5 separate regions of the Homo sapiens genome follow, and all the other regions are reported to be linked to region 4. The links are microRNA targets in miRTarBase. Many come from high-throughput screens and were not tested one by one. Region 4 holds a microRNA gene; each other region holds the end of a gene's coding sequence. Distances are between the middles of the regions.
What was found. Region 4 holds the annotated microRNA hsa-miR-30e-3p (CUUUCAGUCGGAUGUUUACAGC, at 2,483-2,504, opposite strand). A microRNA usually pairs through its seed, bases 2 to 8, with sites in the 3' UTR of a target mRNA and lowers its output. Matches are read on the target gene's strand: a 7mer-m8 pairs with bases 2 to 8, a 7mer-A1 pairs with bases 2 to 7 and ends in A, and an 8mer does both.

Region 1: miRTarBase lists RSL1D1 as a target of hsa-miR-30e-3p. Seed matches in the 3' UTR shown: 8mer at 3,168-3,175 and 8mer at 4,085-4,092.
Region 2: the mRNA of ARL2BP is a reported target of hsa-miR-30e-3p. Seed matches in the 3' UTR shown: 7mer-A1 at 2,611-2,617.
Region 3: miRTarBase lists NBPF3 as a target of hsa-miR-30e-3p. Seed matches in the 3' UTR shown: 7mer-A1 at 2,624-2,630.
Region 5: miRTarBase lists KRTAP5-9 as a target of hsa-miR-30e-3p. Seed matches in the 3' UTR shown: 7mer-A1 at 319-325.

The regions. Positions count from the first base shown.
Region 1 is chr16:11,834,249-11,838,376 of GRCh38, reverse strand. It overlaps RSL1D1 (ribosomal L1 domain containing 1), which reads left to right. Exons shown (of 9, transcript NM_015659.3): 9 at 264-4,128. The coding sequence ends at 590. Among named protein-coding and RNA genes, the nearest start is that of BCAR4, 7.5 kb to the right of the region's middle.
Region 2 is chr16:57,251,679-57,255,815 of GRCh38, reverse strand. It overlaps ARL2BP (ARF like GTPase 2 binding protein), which reads right to left. Exons shown (of 6, transcript NM_012106.4): 6 at 2,181-3,650. The coding sequence ends at 3,549. It overlaps LOC124903697 (a long non-coding RNA gene), which reads left to right and starts at 4,024. Exons shown (of 2, transcript XR_007065082.1): 1 at 4,024-4,112.
Region 3 is chr1:21,483,062-21,487,061 of GRCh38, reverse strand. It overlaps NBPF3 (NBPF member 3), which reads right to left. Exons shown (of 15, transcript NM_032264.6): 15 at 2,162-3,919. The coding sequence ends at 3,676. Among named protein-coding and RNA genes, the nearest start is that of ALPL, 24 kb to the left of the region's middle.
Region 4 is chr1:40,752,768-40,756,916 of GRCh38, reverse strand. It overlaps MIR30E (microRNA 30e), which reads right to left and starts at 2,562; the gene lies at 2,471-2,562. It overlaps NFYC (nuclear transcription factor Y subunit gamma), which reads right to left. Exons shown (of 10, transcript NM_014223.5): 5 at 3,671-3,766.
Region 5 is chr11:71,548,935-71,553,067 of GRCh38, forward strand. It overlaps KRTAP5-9 (keratin associated protein 5-9), which reads left to right. Exons shown (of 1, transcript NM_005553.4): 1 at 1-674. The coding sequence ends at 233. Among named protein-coding and RNA genes, the nearest start is that of KRTAP5-9, 2.6 kb to the left of the region's middle. RefSeq lists enhancers at 1-449, 1-51, 1,450-1,499.

The sequences.
Region 1 (4,128 bases), not on the chromosome of region 4:
AGCCTGGCTAACATGGTGAAACCCTGTTTCTACTAAAAATACAAAAAATGAGCCGGGCGTGGTGGCACACACCTATAATACCAGCTACTCGGGAGGCAGAGGTTGCAGTGAACTGAGATTGTGCCATTGCACTCTAGCATGGGCAGCAAGAGCGAAACTCAGTCTGAAAAATAAATAAATACAAATAAAAACAGTAACTCCTGGAGTTAGAGTGTCAGGTTTTGTGGCTTTTTCTATATTAAACTTACTTTTTTTTTTCTTAGATTCAAAAACATGCCACAGGAAAGAAGTCTCCAGCAAAGAGTCCTAATCCCAGCACACCTCGTGGGAAGAAAAGAAAGGCTTTGCCAGCATCTGAGACCCCAAAAGCTGCAGAGTCTGAGACCCCAGGGAAAAGCCCAGAGAAGAAGCCAAAAATCAAAGAAGAGGCAGTGAAGGAAAAAAGTCCTTCGCTGGGGAAAAAAGATGCGAGACAGACTCCAAAAAAGCCAGAGGCCAAGTTTTTCACCACTCCTAGTAAATCTGTGAGAAAAGCTTCCCACACCCCCAAAAAATGGCCCAAAAAACCCAAAGTACCCCAGTCGACCTAAAGTCAGTGATTCAACTGGAAGGAAACCTCAATGCTGCCTCCAGAGCTTTTTGGAAATACTCAGATCCTGGCCGCCTTTGTAACCTTCTCTAAACGTCAGGCCTGGACTTAAAAGATTTTTTAAAACCTCCATAAGTAGTCCAGGGGCGGTGGCTCACGCCTGTAATCCCAGCACTTTGGGAGGCCGAGGCAGGCGGATCACAAGGTCAACGAGATCGAGACCATCCTGGCCAACATGGTGAAACCCTGTCTGTACCAAAAATACAAAAATTAATTGGGCATGGTGGTGGACACCTGTAATCCCAGCTACTAGGGAGGCTGAGGCAGGAGAATTGCTTGAACCTGGGAGGCGGAGGTTGCAGTGAGCCACTGCACTCCAGCCTGATGACAGAGCAAGACTCAGTCTCAAAAATAAATAAAAATAATAAAACCTCCATAAGTAATCCTGACATATGTTCCTGGGTATAATCTGTTTCTAAATTGTCCTTCTGTGTATTTGCTAATGTAATAGAGGGAAAAATAGAGTGCTTCTCTGTGGTTGTTCAGCACTTTAGGTAGCCAAGGTGAGAGGATTGCTTGAGGCCAGGAGTTTGAGACTAGCCTGGGCAACTTGGTAAAACCCCATCTCTACAAAAGAAAAAAAAAAATTAGTGTGGCATGGTGGCATGCATCTGTGCTCCCAGCTCCTCACGAGGCTGAGGTGGAAGGATCAAGTGAGCGCAAGAGGTTGAGGCTCCAGTGAGCCACGATCACCCCACTGTGCTGTAGCCTGGGTGACAGTGTGAGATTCTGTCTCAGAAAAAACAAAGTATAACATTGCTTTGCTTCTGAGTATACTGTTGGCTTTCCAAATCAGTGGGTCTGACTTGAGGTCTGTGATGTGACCCTTTTCCTCACCTGCTCAACCATTATTCACATGGACTCCATCATATTCATTTGTAGTCATTCCCAGAGTGGCCCAGTGAGGGTCTCGCTGTATGAGAGTCGGCTACGGAATTTAGGAGAAACAGAAGTTTCTTGGCTTTCATGCTGAGCTTGTTGGTCTAAGCTTATGAGTCACTGGATTAGCATCCATATGGGAAGGGAAATTAACATGGAGTCATTTATACAGGGACTAAATTGAATCCTACCTACCGGAGGCAAGAACATGATTTATCTTCCATAAGCCTTATCCTCTTCCTCCTTATTCCTCAGTCCATATGGATTTGCTTATGTATGACAACTCCAAGGAATCTTGGAAGAGTAGATTGCTAACGTTTCCACAATTGTCAAGTATATTCTGAGGCAGTAAACACCTTTTTAGGTACGTGGCCTTTCACTGGTTGTGAATTGGTATGCATCCGTAGTAGTAAGTTCACAGATTCACTGCAGTGCAGGAATGTTCTTGCATGCCAAAGACTCAACTGCTTTCAAAGATAATGTGGGTGCTAGATGCAGTGGCTTACATCTGTAACCCTGTTAGGGTGACCAGACCCAACACCAGGTCGTGGGGGTGACAAAGTCCAGTGGAGTCAAAGGATTGAGAAAAAGACAGTTTGAGAGAGAAGTAGGACCAGCAGACCATCGGGATGGTGGAGGCTGTGAAGGCCGTGAGCTCTGGGAGCCCACACTATTTATTGGTAATCCAACAAAGAAACAGATGGTGAGAATGTGAAGGTCAGAAGGGCACCTTGCATTAAGCACATGATTTACAGCTGTGATGGTTTAGCATTTGCTCTGCTACTTGAGATGATGGAGAGCAGGTTCTTTTAACTCAAGTTACAGTCGATCCTGGGAGAGCAAGGAGCCAGCAAGTCTAGACATTCCAGAGCCACAGGCCCTGGATTTTATCCAAGCCACGAGGGATTTTATGCCCTGGGCTTAGATTATGGTGCGTCAGGGCAGCCTTCCACCCTTTAGCACAGAGCTTGGTGTTCCAAAGACCACAAGGGGTTTTAGACCCTTGACCCTGGACATATTCCAAGACTCTTTTACATTATGTCAGAATGCAAGCCCTGCCTCAGCTTCTCCCAACACTCAGCTTTTCGCAACATAATCCCAGCACTTTGGAACGCTGGGTGGATTGCTTGAACCCAGGAGTTCGAGACCATCCTGGGCAATATGGCAAAACCCCATCTTTACCAAAAATAAGCTGGGTGTGGTGGAACATGCCTGTGGTCCCAGCTTCTTGGGAGGCTGAGGTGGGAGGATTGCTTGAACCCGGGAGGTAGAGGCTGCAATGGGCCATGATCACGATCCTGCACTCCAGCCTGGGCAACAGAGAGAGACAGTCCCTGGCCCACTGCCCCCTTCCCTGGCCCAGTCTCAAAAAAAATGAGGCTGGGCGTGGTGGCTCACATCTGTAATCCCAGCCAAGGCTGGCAGATCACTTGAGGCCAGGAGTTCTGAGACCAGCCTGGCTTACATGGTGAAACCCCATCTCTACTAAAAATACAAAAACTAGCCAGGCATGGTGGGAGGCACCTGTAATCCCAGCTACTTGGGAGGCTGAAGCAGGAGAATCACTTTAACCCGGGAGGTGGAGGTTGCAGTGAGCTGAGATCACACCACTGCACTCCAGCCTGGGCGGCAGAGCAAAACTGAAAAAAAGAGAAAAAAAAAAACATCTAGCTCTCCCTGAAATTAGAGGAGTCTAGCCTGCTTTTGCTGTTTTTTTGGTAGCGAGAGTAGCGGGCAGTGGGGGAGATGGTCTTACTCTGTTCCCCAGGCTGGAGTGCACTAGTGTCATCACAGCTCCAGCCTCAATTTCCTGGGCTCAAGGCGATCTTCCCACCTCAGCCTCCCAAGTAGCTCAGACTACAGGGGCATGCCATCACAGCTGGCCAGTTTTTACGTCTTGCGTAGAGATGGGTTTTCCCTGTGTTCCCTAGGCTGGGCTCGAACTCCTGGGCTCAAGTCCTCCTGCCTCAGCCTCCCAAAATGTTCAGATTACAGGCATGAGGCAGCATGCCAATCCTGTTTTTGCATTTTAGTAACACAAATTGTAATGTTAACTTTTTAAATTATGAAAGCATCTAAAATATAAAATTATTTGTAACCCCACTGTCCTTTTGGGCTTCTATAAATGAATATACATCTAAAATGTGGGGGTTTAGCTTAATTGATTGTTTTCCATAGAAACTAGGTTTTATGGGAAGATGGTTGGATAGACTTGTTTCACTTAAAGGTCTGGTTTGTGTAGGACAAACCCACATATGTAATCGTGCCAGTCTGTTCTCTGCATGACATAATTTTCCAGCAATAGCTGTGTGGTTTTTGTAATCCTATCATCTAGTCAGTTCAAGATCTTGCAACACTGTGTGATTCTTTGCTCCGTAGTTCAGTCTTGTTGAACATGACACAGGTGTTTACTTTCCTGTTCTTGCATCTAGTTTCATTCTAATAATGTTCTCTGTTGAAAAAGCTGGCTTCAATTTATTGAGCAAGATGCTGGTGTTATCATCTAACATAAAACCTATCTTATAATAAAGTGTTGACACATGTAATGAGTACTGTACTGAAAAATGGTGGTATGTATATGGTTTGTACTGATTATGTAT
Region 2 (4,137 bases), not on the chromosome of region 4:
GCAGGTTAGGTGAGCTTACTGAATCAAAGATTTCAACAATATCATCTACCTTGAAAGTCTGTGAAGCTTGGAGGTCATATAATCAAGGTGGCTGGCCATGCTGCCTGCTCAGAGCTGGTAGAGACAGCAGAGGAAAGCAGCTGAGTACTCCTGAGCTTATTTTTCCAACACCACAGAACAACGTTCTCTGAACAATAAGGTAAAAGCATTTCTAGGTACCCTCTGTACCCTTTTGTTATTTTTTATTTTTATTTTTTGGAGACCGAGTCTTGCTCTAGTGCCCAGGCTGGAGTGCAATGGCGCAATCTTGGCTCACTGCAATCTCCGCCTTCTGGGTTCAAGCAATTCTCCTGCCTCAGCCTCCTGAGTAGCTGAGACTACAGGTGAGCGCCACCACGCCCAGCTGATTTTTTGTATTTTTAGTAGAGATGGGGTTTCACCATGTTAGCCAGGATGGTCTTGATCTCCTGACTTCATGATCCGCCTGCCTTAGCCTCCCAAAGTGCTGGGATTACAGGTGTGAGCCACCACACCTGGCCGATTTTTTTTTTTTTTAAGAGACAGGGTCTTGCTCTCTTGCCCAGGTTGGAGTACAGTGCCACAACTACAGCTCACTGCAGCCTTGACTGCCCAGGCTCAAGCAATCCTCCCACCTCAGCTTCCTCAGTAGCTTGGACTACAAGTGCAGGCCACCATGCCCAGCTAATTTTTGTTTTTTTTTTTTTTTGAGATGGAGTCTCACTTTGTCACCCAGGCTGGACTGCAGTGGCGTGATCTCGGCTCACTGCAACCTCTGCCTCCCAGATTCAAGCGATTCTCCTGCCTCAGCCTCCCGAGTAACGGACTACAGGTGCGTGCCACCATGCCTGGCTAATGTTTTGTATTTTTAGTAGAGACGGGGTTTCACCGTGTTAGCCAGGATGGTCTCGATCTCCTGACCTCGTGATCCGCCCGTCTCGGCCTCCCAAAGTGCTGGGATTACCAGCGTGAGCCACTGTGCCCGGCTGATTTTTAAATTTTTTGTAGACATTGGGTCTCGCTATATTGCTTAGGCTGGTCTTAAACTCCCAGCTTCAAGTGATCCTCCCATCTCAGCCTCCCAAAGCGCTGAGATTATCGGCATGAACCACCACACTTGGCCCTGGTATAAATATTAATAGCATCACTTTTTACTCTAAAGTCTCGGAGTTTGAATAATAAATTAGTCCTTCCAGGAGTAAGTTATAAGAGTTTGGTTTTAAGGAAGGGCAATACACTTAAATGTAAAACAAAATCCCAGGCAAGTTAGAGAGCTCACCCCTCTTATGTTTCCAACATGAATCAAAAGCCTGTTTCAGGGGGGACATTAAAGGCATTCAGTCAATGCTAAGGCTCAGCAGTTTGTGTGACTACTGCTTCCCACTGGGGAGGAGTCCTAAGCAAGAGGACTGGGGCTTCCTCACCCCAGGGCAGGTGGGAGCCCCATCAAAGGTGGCACCTGACATCACAGTCTAAGTGTCTGAGGATGGAGAGACAGGCTGCTAGTTTATTTTAAAAGAAATCAGAATGTCTACTTATAATATTAAGTGACAACAGACTTGCCTCCTTTTTGCTGAGCAGAAAGGGTGAAAAAACCAGCCAGGCATGGTGGCTCACACCTGTGATCCCAGCACTTTGGGAGGTGGGTGATCACCTGAAGTCAGGAGTTCAAGACCAGCCTGACCAACATGGTGAAACCCTGTCTCTACTAAAAATACAAAAATTAGCTGGGCGTGTTTGTGGACACCTATAATCCCGGCTGCTTGGGAGGCTGAGGCAGCAGAATCACTGGAACTCGGGAGGTGGAGGTTGCAGTGTGCCGAGATCGTGCCATTGCACTCCAGCCTGGGCAACAAAAGCAAAACTCCATTCCCAAAAAAAAAAGAAAAAAAAAAGGGTGAAAAACCAATTTGCCTTTATCATCGTTTTTTCATCATTTAATCTCTGGACTTGTCCACTGGCCTTTTCTCAAGTAGGCAGGCTGGTCCACAGGTCTTAGCAAGTGCTCCCAGCATGCCTGGGCTGTGGTGGACCTCCCATTTATAGACAAAGCAAGGGAAAGCAAGCCCAGGAGAGGTGGCATTTAAAAAAAAAAAAAAAAGACCAAAGCAATAATTAATAACCTTATGGCAGTGGCTACATTAAAGAAAGAATACAACTCATTGAGAATGGTGGTTCTTGCGAAACACCTGAAGTTTTACTCATGGTACAAAAGTATTTAATAAGTGACACATCAGTACAGAAACACAGAGCTTGTAGCTTGTCCTTTAAAACCAGAATGGCCAAGTGAAAAGTCAGTACAGATTCTTATTTTTACTATTAAAAAAAAAAAATCAAAGGGACACACTGGGAATTGAACTACTATGCTTTTTCTTCGTTCTAGAGATGACATATATGTTTTCTGATAAGTAATCTACCACACATTGCACTAAACCAAAGCATACAAACAGCCAGTAAAGCTGTGCTCTACCTGCTACTCATGCTGGGCTGGACAGTGGAACACCATCTTGGTAGGAGAGATTTTGACAGGAAGAAACTGCAGAGTCCCTACCTAACCCAGAGAACCTTACAAACTGGTTTATACACAAAGGATTTTCAGCAAACATGCAAACACACTAACATGCTATAGGAATATGTTTTAGTCTATTTCTAGCACACAGCATACATTCATAGGTGCCCAGTAAAATAGGAATGAATGTCAATGTAGAAAGCATTTTTGCCTTCACAGTACTAACAAACACCTAAAAAGCACACAGCATATAATACTTTGATCTTTAAGTGGATAATCATGGAAGTTCCAAGATCACATCCACTAGGTTAGCCTGAGTATTCATCTATAAAAATATTTTTTTTTTCAAAAATAATGCTTAAAAGAGACTTCTAGAAACAGTGGGACTACATCAGGACCAGAAGACAGTGACACAAGGACTGCAAATGTTAAGACTAGGAGTAGCTTTTCACATGGAGCTTTTATGTAGAGGACGTCTCCTTCTGTTGATTCCTACAGCCGAGACAAGATGTGATCACAGGAGACTCCAAAATCTCAAACTGGGCTTGAGTAACACCCTAGATAAACATCAGGAACCCCACTGAGGCTGAAGTACTGAAACTGTGGCCCATGTGAAAAAGAGGTGCAAGTGCACAAAGATTCATGCAGAGCCTGCTGGAACAGAGGGTGGTGGCGGCGGGTTAGTCCACACTTACACACCAGCAGGTATGCTGGGGAAGGGCCCCCCAGGTGGAGTGCCTGACATAGGGCTCGCTCCAGAGGCGTCTGACTCAGAAGCTCCTGAGAGAGGTGTCTACTTGAGGTGGGGAGGAGTACTATGGTTAATGAATACAAGAAGGTGTTTCAGGATAAATAGGTCCAGGAGGGTTAGGTCATTTTGGTTTTGACCTATTAATACTTAACATAAATGAAGAGTTACATAACAGAGTCAGTCTTTCCAAGATGTGTTCTGTCATCATGAGCTGAGCCTATTGGGCTGGTGACATCCAGAATGATCCCATTCATTGGCTGGAGGTAGGACCTAGTGCCGCAGATTGTTCTGGGAAGCTGGCAGAGAAGATGATTTGCACAATGAAGTCACCACTAAGCCACTGCTTAAGTCCAGTCCTCGGCCTTCTTTTTCCTATATGAGAAAACAACCAAAGGAAGGACTAGAAAGAGCCCTGGCTTGGAATCTTGCCTCTGACATGGGGAAGGCAGAGCTGAAGGTGGGAACGTGGACCTCCAGAGTACATAGGAAGGGAACACAGGTTATTGGTTATTCTGCATTTCTGCTCAATACTGGCCTGCCCTAGTCTTAATTTTTTTTAATATTATTTTTAAAGAGGTAGGGTCTTGCTCTGTCACCCAGGCTGGAGTATAGTGGCTTGATCACAGCTAACTGCTGCCTGGAATTCCTGGGCTCAAGTGGTCCTCCTGCCTCAGCCTCCTGAGTAGCTAGGACTACAGGTGTGCACCACTACAGCTGACTAACTTTTTTATTTTTATTTTTGTAGAGACAGGGTCTTGATATGTCACTTAGGCTGGTCTTGAACTCCTGGGCTCAAGTGATTCTCCTGCCTTGGCCTCCCAAAGCGCTGGAATTGTAAGTATGAGCCACTGTGTCCAGC
Region 3 (4,000 bases), 19 Mb from region 4:
AGCATGGCGACAGAGCGAGACTCCATCTCGGGGGGAAAAAAAGGCAGGGTCTGTTTAGCTCCAGTACTCACCATATCCCCCTTTCTCCAGTCTACCTCCATTTAAAAAGGTGAAGGGGATATGTTTTGCAAATTCTAAAGTTGTAGATGAATCAATCATCCCCAGAACTACTTACCACAATAATAAAAGATGTTGAGGGGAAAGGGGAGGGACTGGAAGGAGAAACTTTTGGGGCAATGGAAATGTCCTGTATCAACATATAGAGATGATGGTAGAAGAGTATATATTTAGTGCAAGTCATTGAAATGTACACCTAAGATCTATGAATTTCACTGTATGCAAAGTTTCTCCTTTGAAAATTTTCCCTTTCAAAAACAGCTATACAAGGCATTATTGGTACAAATGGGGAAAGCTGAATATATCTACATTGGATAATATTATTGTATTAGTGCTAAATTCTTGGATGTCAAATTCTTGGATGTTCCAGAGAGTGTTTCGCATGTGATTAAGATCGGGATGGGCAGACTAAGTGAAGCAGATTGCCCCCTTAACGGGGGTGGGACTCATACAATCAATCAAAGGCCAGGAGAGAATTAAGAGGCCTAATAGGAAACAAATGCTTTCCTGGGTATCCATCCAGCTTTCCTTCCATCTTGGGAATTTCAGCCTCCATAATCTCAGAAGCAAATTCACATATGTATACACACACATATACATTTCATAGGTATGTGGCTAAGAGTGTATTTTTAAAAGTTCAGCCATGAGATGATTGGTGAAGCCAGCCAATGAATAAGGGTGTGTTCTGTTATATGACTCGGTCTTCTTTTGTACACGATTGAAGTTCTGCATTTGAAGTAGGAGGACAGGAGAGAGCAAGACCACCTAGGATGATAACAGCTGAATTTCTCAACAGACACTTCAAAGCCCTAGGGGTTAACTTAGAGAGTCAAAAATCCCACCCATAACCCTGTCCCTAAACGCCAGGGCTAGGGAACACTGTGGCCCTCAGGTGATTTTCTTTCACTTGGTCTGGGAGCCACACAAGGGCAGAGGGAGCAGGAAACACTAAGCAAATCGAGGCCAGGACAGCAGGGAGGGCCTGTTCATGACAGAACACAGGTAAAACTATCCTCAGAAAGAGCATGTGGAGAAACACAGATCATGCCTGAGACCTGGTGGATTAGAGCACTGGCTACTGGGGAATTGAAAGGAAGGGGCTTCACCATGCAGAGGACCAGAGGTGCCAGTCCTGGAAACGCAGAATTGCTGGGAGATGGGGAGGCATGGACAAAGGAAGCATCCGCTGGAGACTCATGGTGAAGAGAACAAATGAAGTAACTGGCAGAAATTATAGGTCCTGGTAGAACAAAATAGAATCCCACAACGAGAACATACACCATGTATGTCCCGCAAGGAAGACAATAGCTCCTAAAAACACAAGAAAAATCATTTTGGGCAAACACCTTATATCCAGTAATGCGATCCATGTATCAAGACCGTGAGGAAGATTATTAAACATGCTAAACTCAGCGAGACCTGATTCCCTCATGAGGACTCTGTTAGGATGAGTACCACTCAGCAAGTGATGACTGTGACATTCACTTTTGAACAGCTCATGAGCATTAATATATTTAATTGTGGATCTAAACCAAAAACCAAGGTGTGGGCAAGATGACAACCACAGAATGTCACTGGTGTATGTTTAGGTTCAAATACGATTATGAGAAGTGGCAGGTAAAGGAGGTAGGAAAAAGAAAACACATCATGTAATTGACTGTCATATGGAAATATGTGATGTTGAAAGTCATAATTTAAAACGTATAAACCAAATATTAGAAGTGTGTCTAGTTCAAAGGGGGGAAAACTATGAAACATTTTTAGTCAATATCAAACATGAGCTACACAACCCTTCCTAAATGCCAGAGGCACACGCAGACACACACACACACACTCTCACAAAGAATATAAATATCTAGAACCAAGAAATGGAGTACATGCATTCTGCTACATATGGTAAACATAGCCTACAAGGTGGAAGAGATTAGAAAATAAACAGGGAAATGAAAATGTTTTTATTAATTCGCATCAGTACCCACCAAAACCAATCAGCATAACAAAAGATTATAACGCTGAATGTAAAAAACAATCCAACAGTCCAGAGTGATAGGCAAAAGTTTTTAATTGTATAGATTAAAATAACTTTGGACAAAAATTAAAACTCAGGCAGAGAATGTTTTTTTTTCAACAACACACACTAGCAAAAACAAAGGCACAGTAAACATTGAGGCAGCAAATTTCCAGCGTAGAGATATGAATATAATAATAGACACAGGCAGGGATGATTAATAAATGATAAAACGTTTAGAGGATGATCACTGGAATACAGGACATTTCTACTTTGAAAAACCACTCTCCCAAATACTTCATCATAAGTAAGGTGTCTCTAAAAGGGACAGATCTCCTAGACCCCTCCTTAACCAAGTAACCAGTCCTGATATCATGATAATGCTGATGGACAAACTAGACCTTCTCTGCCCACAGATGGGCTGAGGTTGGAAACTCACAGTATCGACTCTGTAGTGTTCTTGATGAAACGTTTAGGCTGAATTTAATCATGAAGACATTTTCAGACAACTTCAGAATGTAGACCATTGAGCCAGACAGCTGACCTGTCCTCTACAAACAAGTCCATGTCACCAAAATCAATGACAACAACAAAAAGATGAGGAAATATTTGGGGTTCAAAATAACTAAAGAAATGTAGCTACATTATCATTTACTTCTTCTGAACCCAAAATATCTCTCCTCCTTTTTGTTGTGTGATTCGTGGTGACGTGGACTGTGTGAAGGAGACAGGTCAGTTGTCCTGCTCAGTGTTCTACATTCTGCAGTTGTCTGGTGATTACCTCCTATGAAACTCAGGCTAAGCATTTTCTGCAAGAACATGGCATTGTTCATATTCTGCACTGGCAGAGTCCCAGGTGACATGCTGTCTCTTGCCAGCGGCTCCTGACTCCTGTTCTTTACAGGATGGAATTGAAAGGAGCAGGACTAAGGCCTCCCAATGCTGTTTGTCCGTCTAGCTGTGGTCTTCCTAAGTATTGATATCAATTGGAGGCTGAAGGACTATGGCTTCTCTACTCAAAGGAGCCTAGTGGGTTAACAACTGTCAAGAGCAGTCAGTGGTTCTGAAATACAATCCTCAGCCAAGGATCCCTCCTGTGTTACAGATGGATCAGCTAAAACAAACCAACACTGAAGATACAAAGAATGGGGTTAGGTTCAATGAAACCAGGGTAACACCTTTGGATGAGCTAAACACAAAGATGACACTGACCTTGAGCAGGTATAGAAGCTCAGAGACATGCCTGCAAAATGAAACCCCTGAGGAACTTTGTAGCTACCCAGAGATATCTGGTTCAAATTAGAATGTCTGGCAGATCACTCCCGGCATGTGCTACATAGTCGTGTGAACGTGTCACACCTAACTTGGGTCCAACGTCTTCAGACTGAGCACAGGTGGCCACTGGCATGGTCTGAGAATAGGAATAGAGCCATGCCCACTTTCCCATCCTATGACTGGGCTTCCAAAGGGAACTACAGTTTCATTCAAACCTACATGTGCCTATACGTCCTGCCTGCAGCAATGACATCTCTCAGCTTAGTAAGGGCTGCTTAGTGTGGGAATATGACTCCCATCTGGAAGGCCAGGTGGTGCCTTATCACTGTCAAAGTAAAAAACCTATTGTCCACGTCAAGGGCCAAGCTGACGTCCTGTTCCTCAAATGAGTAAAAGGCACTTCTATACTGCTGGAATGAGGCATGTAGTTGAAAGTAAGTTGAAGTAGTCGAATAACATCTATCCAGTGAGTCCTGCAAGACTTCAGGCTCTTCTGCTTCCATCAGCACCTCGTTGAGCCTGGAAAAGGAGACAAAACTAAAGAAGCAGCCAGGGAAAATCAGACACCACAGAGCCCCAACTAGATTTCAGGGGTAACAT
Region 4 (4,149 bases):
TTGCATGTCAAATTAACTGTCTGTTCTACTAAAATGTTAAGCACCATGAGGGCAAAGCCTAGCTCTCTCTTGCTCTCTGCTATCCCCCGCGTTCCCAGGTAGGCACTCAGTAAGTGCGTGATGAATGATGAATGGATTTAGACAGGCAGACAGTTAGAGGCAGGAAAGTAGTTCTCTGAATCCAACTTGCTGATATGACAAATTCTCTTAAACCCAACAGCTGTTACCAATAGAAAAAAGTAGTCTCTAAACTCTCTTTTGGTACCTCTAAGACTCTGTGGCCACAGTGTGAGGAAGCAGCTAGTGTCCCCTGTGGAACAGAGCTGAGTATCCTTTGTTTGCCTGATGTCTGGGGGCTAGGATACTAAAACTAGGACTGCCAGTATCTACCCCTGAGAAACATGGGTCTCTGCATGACATGGTTACTTGACAGCCATCTACCCAGCTTAGGGAGATACCTGTAACATTCTGGGTTTCTAAGTTAATATATGAACTGACTTTTTAGGTTGATATAGTCTGTGCTTCAGACACAAATAGTTTTAACCCTCAATATGATTATGCTAAGGCAGAAGGAAAAGGAGATTCCCTTTTATTTTCATCTAGGTCTCAATTTCCACAACAATTTCAACCCCAACTTATCATCATTATAAATAAATGTCAGCCTGGAAACTAGGTATTGGCTGTGGCAAAGCTAAAATACTGATACCTTTTGCAGCCAAGAAACAGAAGCCAACTGCTCTTTGCAAAGCTATTGAAGTAGGTTCAAGGTACTTGTGTTCCACTGAGATCTCCCTTATTATTTTACAAAAAGCACAAATCACTGAAATCCAGACCTAACTTGGAAAAGCTCTTGGGTAATGAGAGGGTATACAGGAATGAGAGCCTCAGAACCAGCTGTGTAGGAAGCTAGGCAGCAGGGAGACACCTGCATTTTCTAGCCGTGACCTGTGATTGTTTAGTCTCCAGTTATCCCCAACTACAGCTGATCTAGTATTGAATATGATCTTTTTGTCAGACAAAAAGCAAACCCTTTAAAAACCCCTTCCAGAACCCAAAATATCTCTTGCCAAAAGCTGTGAGAGCAGGACAAGAGCTCCTCCTATGCTGCTTACTACATCCTCTTAAACTGTTTATGAACTAGACAGTATCTAGGACACTGAGAATCAAGTGGAGGCACCTAGGTTTGTGTTGTTAGGACAAGGCACAACTGTTCTCAAATCACTGGAATGGAAGAAGGCATATCTAAGGCTCTTCTGCATTATGAAGACTCATTCTGCCAATGGAGGTCAAGCCAGCAAGGAAATGATTATGCTTGGTTTAAAGAAATGGGTGAAAAGATAATGACATTTCAATGGGCAGGAACTTTCAACTCAATAGCTTTAGTGGGGCAGAAGTCAGGCCTCAACTACCTCCTACCTTCAAATAATCTTTACTTGCTTCTCTGAAGAACAAGCGAAACTCTCAAGTATCTTTGAGAAGTCAGGGCCTTGGACTCACAATTCAGTATTTCTGACTAGTTCCTTTTCCCAGCAGTGGGAGGTTGCCCCAAGTGGCAGAACAATGCTTTAATGACTGGATCAATCCAGAATGGGGCACTTGCTCAACTTTAGCAGTGGCCTCCCCAACTACAGGGCTTGCTCTTGGAATCTTTCCAGAAGCTGAGACTGACGAACAGTGCCAGAGAAGAGCAGCATCACATCCTAGGGCCATCTCTACAGTGTTGTGCAACCAGCCCTGACTGGAAAAAAGTACATTCGCTTTAGTAGCAAGAGTGAACTGCTGCCTCCTTCAGAAAGGGTGGGTTTTGGAGAGTAGGCGTTTTAAAGGACTTTAGGAGGTGCCAGCCAATTTGAAGCCTGGGAAAACTTCATGTCTACAGAGGATTAAAAATGCTATCTTAGAATTTCAGGCCAGCTTTCAGCAATCTCAACCTTTCAAAGGCCAGGCAGCAGCTGTCCCGAATACGATGCCAATCAATGCCTCGAACACCTACAAAGAACTAAATCCAAGCAACAAGAAGCTGTTTCAGCTAGACACACTTTAAAATCAGATGGATCATAGCATTTTGAGTCTGGCTAAGATGGAATAAGGAGCTGTATGACACCCCGAGAGACCCAGAAGCACTGAGGAATTTGGAGGAACTGACAGGATGTGACCCTTCTCTCCAGCCAGTGTATTCAGCAGGCAGCCCACAGAAAACAAGGAGTTAGCACAATGAGAGTGAGCAAGGCCTGATTTCATCACAGAGCTCACAATCTTGTTTTAAAGGGGGCTTCTGATAGACAAAAGGAGAAAACAATTTCAACAAGGAAAGCAGGTGTATGATACTCTTTGTTCTGAAGGAAGATAAATGGCCTGAGTTCTTGTTGTGACTTCTGAGAGAGGAGGGAAGGACCCCCAAGAGGAGGAATTGAGCCTGTGGGCACAAACCTGCAATGTTTCAAAGCCGGTGCGTAGCTGGGGACGACCGTGGCAGCCTGCCGCTGTAAACATCCGACTGAAAGCTCCTCTGAACACCTTACAGCTTCCAGTCAAGGATGTTTACAGTAGCAAAGACTGCCCAGAAAGAACGGAGACGCAGTGAGGCACACCCTACTCTAGTAAGGAGGTGACAGAGGGCTTGCTAATCCAAAGGCCCTCATGCAGGGTCAGAATTACAAATGTTCATTAGGATGCCCACTTCTCCTAGACTTTCTCTGACTGGTTATTAATACAGGCTGGGATGGGGAGAATGGCTGTCACTGAATGACTGCTTCTAAGGATAATATACTATGAAATAATTCATTAAAAATAAAGTTTTATATAACAAAGCAAGCAGAACAAGGCACAGCTTTGCTCCTGTGAGATTCTGCCACAATTTCCCAAGTGGCACCTAGTGAATCATGCAATCTGCATGCTTAAAACAATGAGCTCTAAAGGACAGAGGTCTATTACAATCACAATTAAGAGCTATATGCACCCAAGGTGCTGAAAAAACAACTAGTGTGACCTTTGGAGAGGGGCAGGCAGAAGAGACGGGAAGGCAGACGTTCATATTCTTTCTTGTGATTGCTTGCAAAACAGCTCAAGTGGTGGTTCTCAAATCTGACTGCACATTAAAAGCATCCAGGGAGTTTTAAAAGGTACTGATGCCTGGGCTCCATCATGAGATTCTGATTCAGCTGATGTGGGTTAGAGCCTGGGCGCTGATATTTTTAAAACCCCAACAGGTGATTCTAGTGTGCAGTCAGGGTACTATATAAAGATATAATGAACCACAATATAGAGGAAGAGAAAACATAGTCCATTCACTCCAAATGCCACTGTGCACATAGAGAAGCTGTTTCTTAAAAATCTAAAATCTATAACTTTCTGGGAATATTCTCCTATCCCAGATGAAGAGCTCTGATAGACTTCCTAAGATAACTTGAAATGAGCTTAACTTTACCATTTGTAACTAAAGTCTTTCATTTTCATTTTGTCTATTTTCACTGAAATACCACTTCGGAGGCACTGAGTTAAAAGTATCCAGAAATGAGTAACAGAAGGAGATGTTAAGAATGAATCTGGTCTAGAAACGAGAAGCAAAAGGAATAGCAAATGACTTGTGCTGAGAGAGAAGGAGCGTATCTGACACCAGTATACAAAGCGCTCTTCAGTCAGCAGCAACTGCAATCCCTTCACAGCTCACCTGACGCTTTGGAGGTTTCAGTTCATCTCTTGGAACAATATCGATGAGAAAATCAAACTGATCAAATTTTGTAATTGCCATGGCGATATCATTTCTCTGTAACAAAGAAGAGCGGTGTGAAAAATTAGCCTGGGGAGAAACTAGTTCACTTGGCTTTATACCCTCCAAGTAAGGTAAGACGACTTTTAAGCCAAACTAAACACCTACGGGCAAGTCTACAGCTGAAATAAGCACAGCCAAACTCATATACTTTAAATGATCAGACCTGGTGGGCAACCATCAACAAAAAAGAAAGAGATACATGTAACTCACACTGTAAAATGGGGTATCTGAGCCTCCAACCACTGCTACTCCTGCTTGATCCTCTCCCCGCGATTTTCAAATTACAAACCTAGTAATCTCAATTAGCAGGTTTCTGGTCATTCTGTGGGTTAGCAAAGTTAGGTTTATAATCTTTTTAAGGCCCTAAATAATATTTT
Region 5 (4,133 bases), not on the chromosome of region 4:
GGTCATCCTGCTGCCAGTGCAGCTGCTGCAAGCCCTACTGCTCCCAGTGCAGCTGCTGTAAGCCCTGTTGCTCCTCCTCGGGTCGTGGGTCATCCTGCTGCCAATCCAGCTGCTGCAAGCCCTGCTGCTCATCCTCAGGCTGTGGGTCATCCTGCTGCCAGTCCAGCTGCTGCAAGCCCTGCTGCTCCCAGTCCAGATGCTGTGTCCCTGTGTGCTACCAGTGCAAGATCTGAGGCTCTAGTGGGAAACCTCAGGTAGCTCCTGAAGATCTGTGCTTTCCAACAAGTGACTACCCTTGAAGCACATCCCCTTCTGGATCTGAAAAGAGCCCTTGGCTCAGGGCGTCTTTTTCCAGCCCCTGAGGAAATGGAATGAACCACTCCCTGCCCATTCCCTATAAGAATATCCCAAGACCCAGGCAATTTTGCCCCTCTTTCCCACATGCCCCCATATGTCTGAGCCAAACTGCACTGGGGGCTGCCCTCATGCCAAGCAAGAGCCTGGAATTCCCCTTCTTGATAATTCCATGGGAGACAGCAAACCCTTCTTTCCTTTGCCTGCCAGGAGCTTCACGACATTTGCAGATGGATGTCCTGCAACCCAAATGATCACATGTATCTATGGAAATCCAAAATGCATCTGGGTGCAGCACTAAATAAATTCTCCATCCCTCAGCCTTGGTCTCACTGACTCTTTTCTTCCAGCCTCTGTCTCATTGGCAAACTGGCCACATGTCCTTCCCCTCCTCCCTGATAGCTTATTGCTCCCACTGCTGTAACAGTGTGCCAGGCCCAGCTCCCATTCCAGAAACAGTTGTTGAACTGATTAATGAAGGAACCACTAGCAGTATGTATGAATGAATGAAGACGAGGAATGAATGAGTGAATGAGTGAGTATCTCTCATTAGTACACAGGGAGTCCCAGCTGTATCTCAGTGGGATTCAGTCTGTCTTGGTTGGAATTTGGACTCCTACTTCTTCCCCATGGGAGGATATGTTTGGGAGAGAAGGAGAACTTTGCCCTCAGTGCCTAGGAAGGGATGTAATGGGTGCTCTCTGGGTCCAGCCAGTCCCCAGTTTGTGGGTCAAGCCAGGAGATGGGGAAGCGAGACTAGAATGAGCTGTGTCCCTGAGATGCTCTGTAGGACAACACTGGAAACTGTGCTGCTTCAAGGATCCAAGACGGTGTGGCTGAACACAGGCTGAAGTGCACCCTCCATCTCTGGGCTCAGAGTGAGGAGGAATCCAAGTGTCCACAGGCTTCCCAGCTTTGGTTTGGCACAGGGAGGAACAGAAGGGACTTTTCTCAGCCTGATAAAGGCCATCTACCCACAGTGAACACGGTGCTTAACTATGAAAACCTGGATGTTTTCCCCTAGGATCAGGAACAGGAAAAGAATGTCCACACCCACCACTTCTATGCAACATTTCACTGAAGCTATAGCCAGAATAACATAACAGGAAAAGAAAATAAAGCCATCCAGGTAAGAAAAAAGGAAGCAAAACTATCTCTATTCACAGAAAACCTCATCTTGTATACAGAAGATGCTGAGGGACACACACACACACACACACACACACACACACACAACTATTAGAGCCAATAACCGAGCTCAGCAGAGTGCAGAACACAAGGACTATACACAATAGTCAGCTGTGTTTCTTTACAACAGCAAAAAGCAAGCAAAAAGGTTGTAAGGAAACAATAAAATTCCTGGGAACAAATGCAACCAAAAAAGTACAAGACTTGGACACTTAACACTACAAAACACCATTGGAAGAAGTTAAGGAGGACCAAAGTAATGGGGGAAAAAATCCTATGTTCATGTATTGGAAGACCTAATATTGTGAAGATTGAAACACTCCAAAAAAAAATTGTTCTACCAATTTAATGCAATTCCGATCAACATCTCAGATTTCTTTTTTCAAAAATTGACAAGTTGATCCTAAAATTTATGTGGACATTCAAGGGACCCTAAATAGCTAAAACAATCTTGAAAAAGAAAAGCAAAGTTTGAGGACTCAGGTTTTCCAATTTCTAAATGGGCTGCAAAGCTACAGTCATCAAGGCAGCATGGCTCTTGCATAAGGATAGAAAGATGGATCAATGGGGTAGGTTTGAGACTCTTGAAATAAAGCCTCACAGTTGTGGTCAATGTATTTTCACAGGTACTATACAATTCCATGGGAAAAGAGGAATGTTTTCAACAAACAATGCTGCTAAGACAACTGGATGTCCACATGCAAAAGAGTGAATTTGAATCTTGACCTCATACCATATACCAAACAAACAAAAAAAAAATAGAAAAAATAGATCAATGACCTAATTGTAAAAGCCAAAACTAGAGGATTACTAGAAGCAAAACAGGTTAAGTTTTCATGACCTTGGAGTATGAAATGGTTCTTAGATAATGACACCAAAACCACAGGGAAAAACTAGATTAACTAACTACATCAAAACGAATAGTTTTTGTGCTTCTGAGGGCACTATGAAGAAAATGAAGATACACCAACAGAGTGGAAGAAACTACTTTGAAATCATATATTTGATAAGAACTTGCATCTAGACATATAAAGAATTCTTACTACTCAAACACACAATCCAATTAAAGACCCAGCAGAGGATTTAAATAGGCATTTTCCAAAGAAGATATACAAATGGCTAATAAGCACATGAAAAGGAGCTCAACATTGTTAGACATCAGGGAAAATCAGGGAAATGCAAATCAAAACCACAATAAGATAGCAGTTCACATCCTCTGGGATGGCTATTATCAAAAAGACAATAAGAAGCACTGATGAGAATGTGGAGAAATGGGAGCCCTTGTGCATTGGATGAAAATAAAAAAATCATGCCACTACTTTGAAAAATAGTTCCTCAAATGTTCCATGTAGAGTTACCATATGACTCAGCAATTCCACTCTTAGGTAACTACTGAAGGGAACTGAAATGTATATCACATAAAAACTCATATGATGATATTCATAGCAGCCTTATTCTCATTTGCCAACAAGTGGAACCATCTAAATGTCCATGAACTGATGAGTCGGTAAACAAAATGTGGTATAGTCATACATGGACATATTCATATTCTGGATGTTATCCCCATATCATTTTTAAATTTTAGTGTTTTAATGTTAAAAATGATAGACAATTGTAGAAGACAACAAATTACTCATAACCCCAATCTCTAGAGTGCTAACATTTTGGTTGCTCCCATGTAATTTGTGTATTCGGGCATCTCATGACCTCTCTATTACCCAAGGTCACCACGGTGTTCTGCTTGCCAAGGCACAGGCTCTTCACTGGCCCCATAACAATGACCCGAGCCCCCATTGTAGGCAGAGGGTTGCATGTCCCACCTGAGTGAGTTTATGTGGGAATCCCCAGGGCCTTTCGTGTTCTCCACGCGTTGGTGGAGCGGCCCCTGCTTCTCCCCCAGGGTGTGCCTGCAGCCCCTTCCCTGCCTCCTGCCATTCCCATGGGTGGTGCCAAGAGAAGCTTTAGGGCAGCCAAGCTCCTCCTTCCTTCTTGGCATCAGCTAGAGGTTCCTACGAATGCTAATGGTTGGGGGCATGGTGGGGAGAATTCATTATTTCTTCCAGCACTGCTCTCTTAAAAATTTGTATTATCAATAGTTTAGAAAGGTTGTTTTTAGTTTCATAGCTCACTATCAATAACTATGTTAATTTTTAGGATTATCAAATTTGGGGAGATGTCATCGAATTGCTTTCCTATATGAGATATAGTATTTGGAAGACATTTCTGAAAACCAGCTCTGCCTCTGTACCTTTCCTTTTTTTTTTTTTTTTTTTTTTTTTTTTTTTTTTTTGAGACGGAGTCTCACTCTGTCACCCAGGCTGGAGTGCAGTGGTGCAATCTTGGCTCACTGCAAACTCCACCTCCCGGGTTCAAGTGATTCTCCTGCCTCAGCCTCCGGAGTAGCTGGGACTACAGGTGCCCCCCACCATGCCTGGCTAATTTTTTTTTGTATTTTTAGTAGAGACGGGGTTTCACCGTGTTAGCCAGGATGGTCTCGATCTCCTGACCTCGTGATCCGCCCGCCTCGGCCTCCCAAAGTGCTGGGATTACAGGTGTGAGCCACCACGCCTGGCCACCTTTCTACCTTTCAA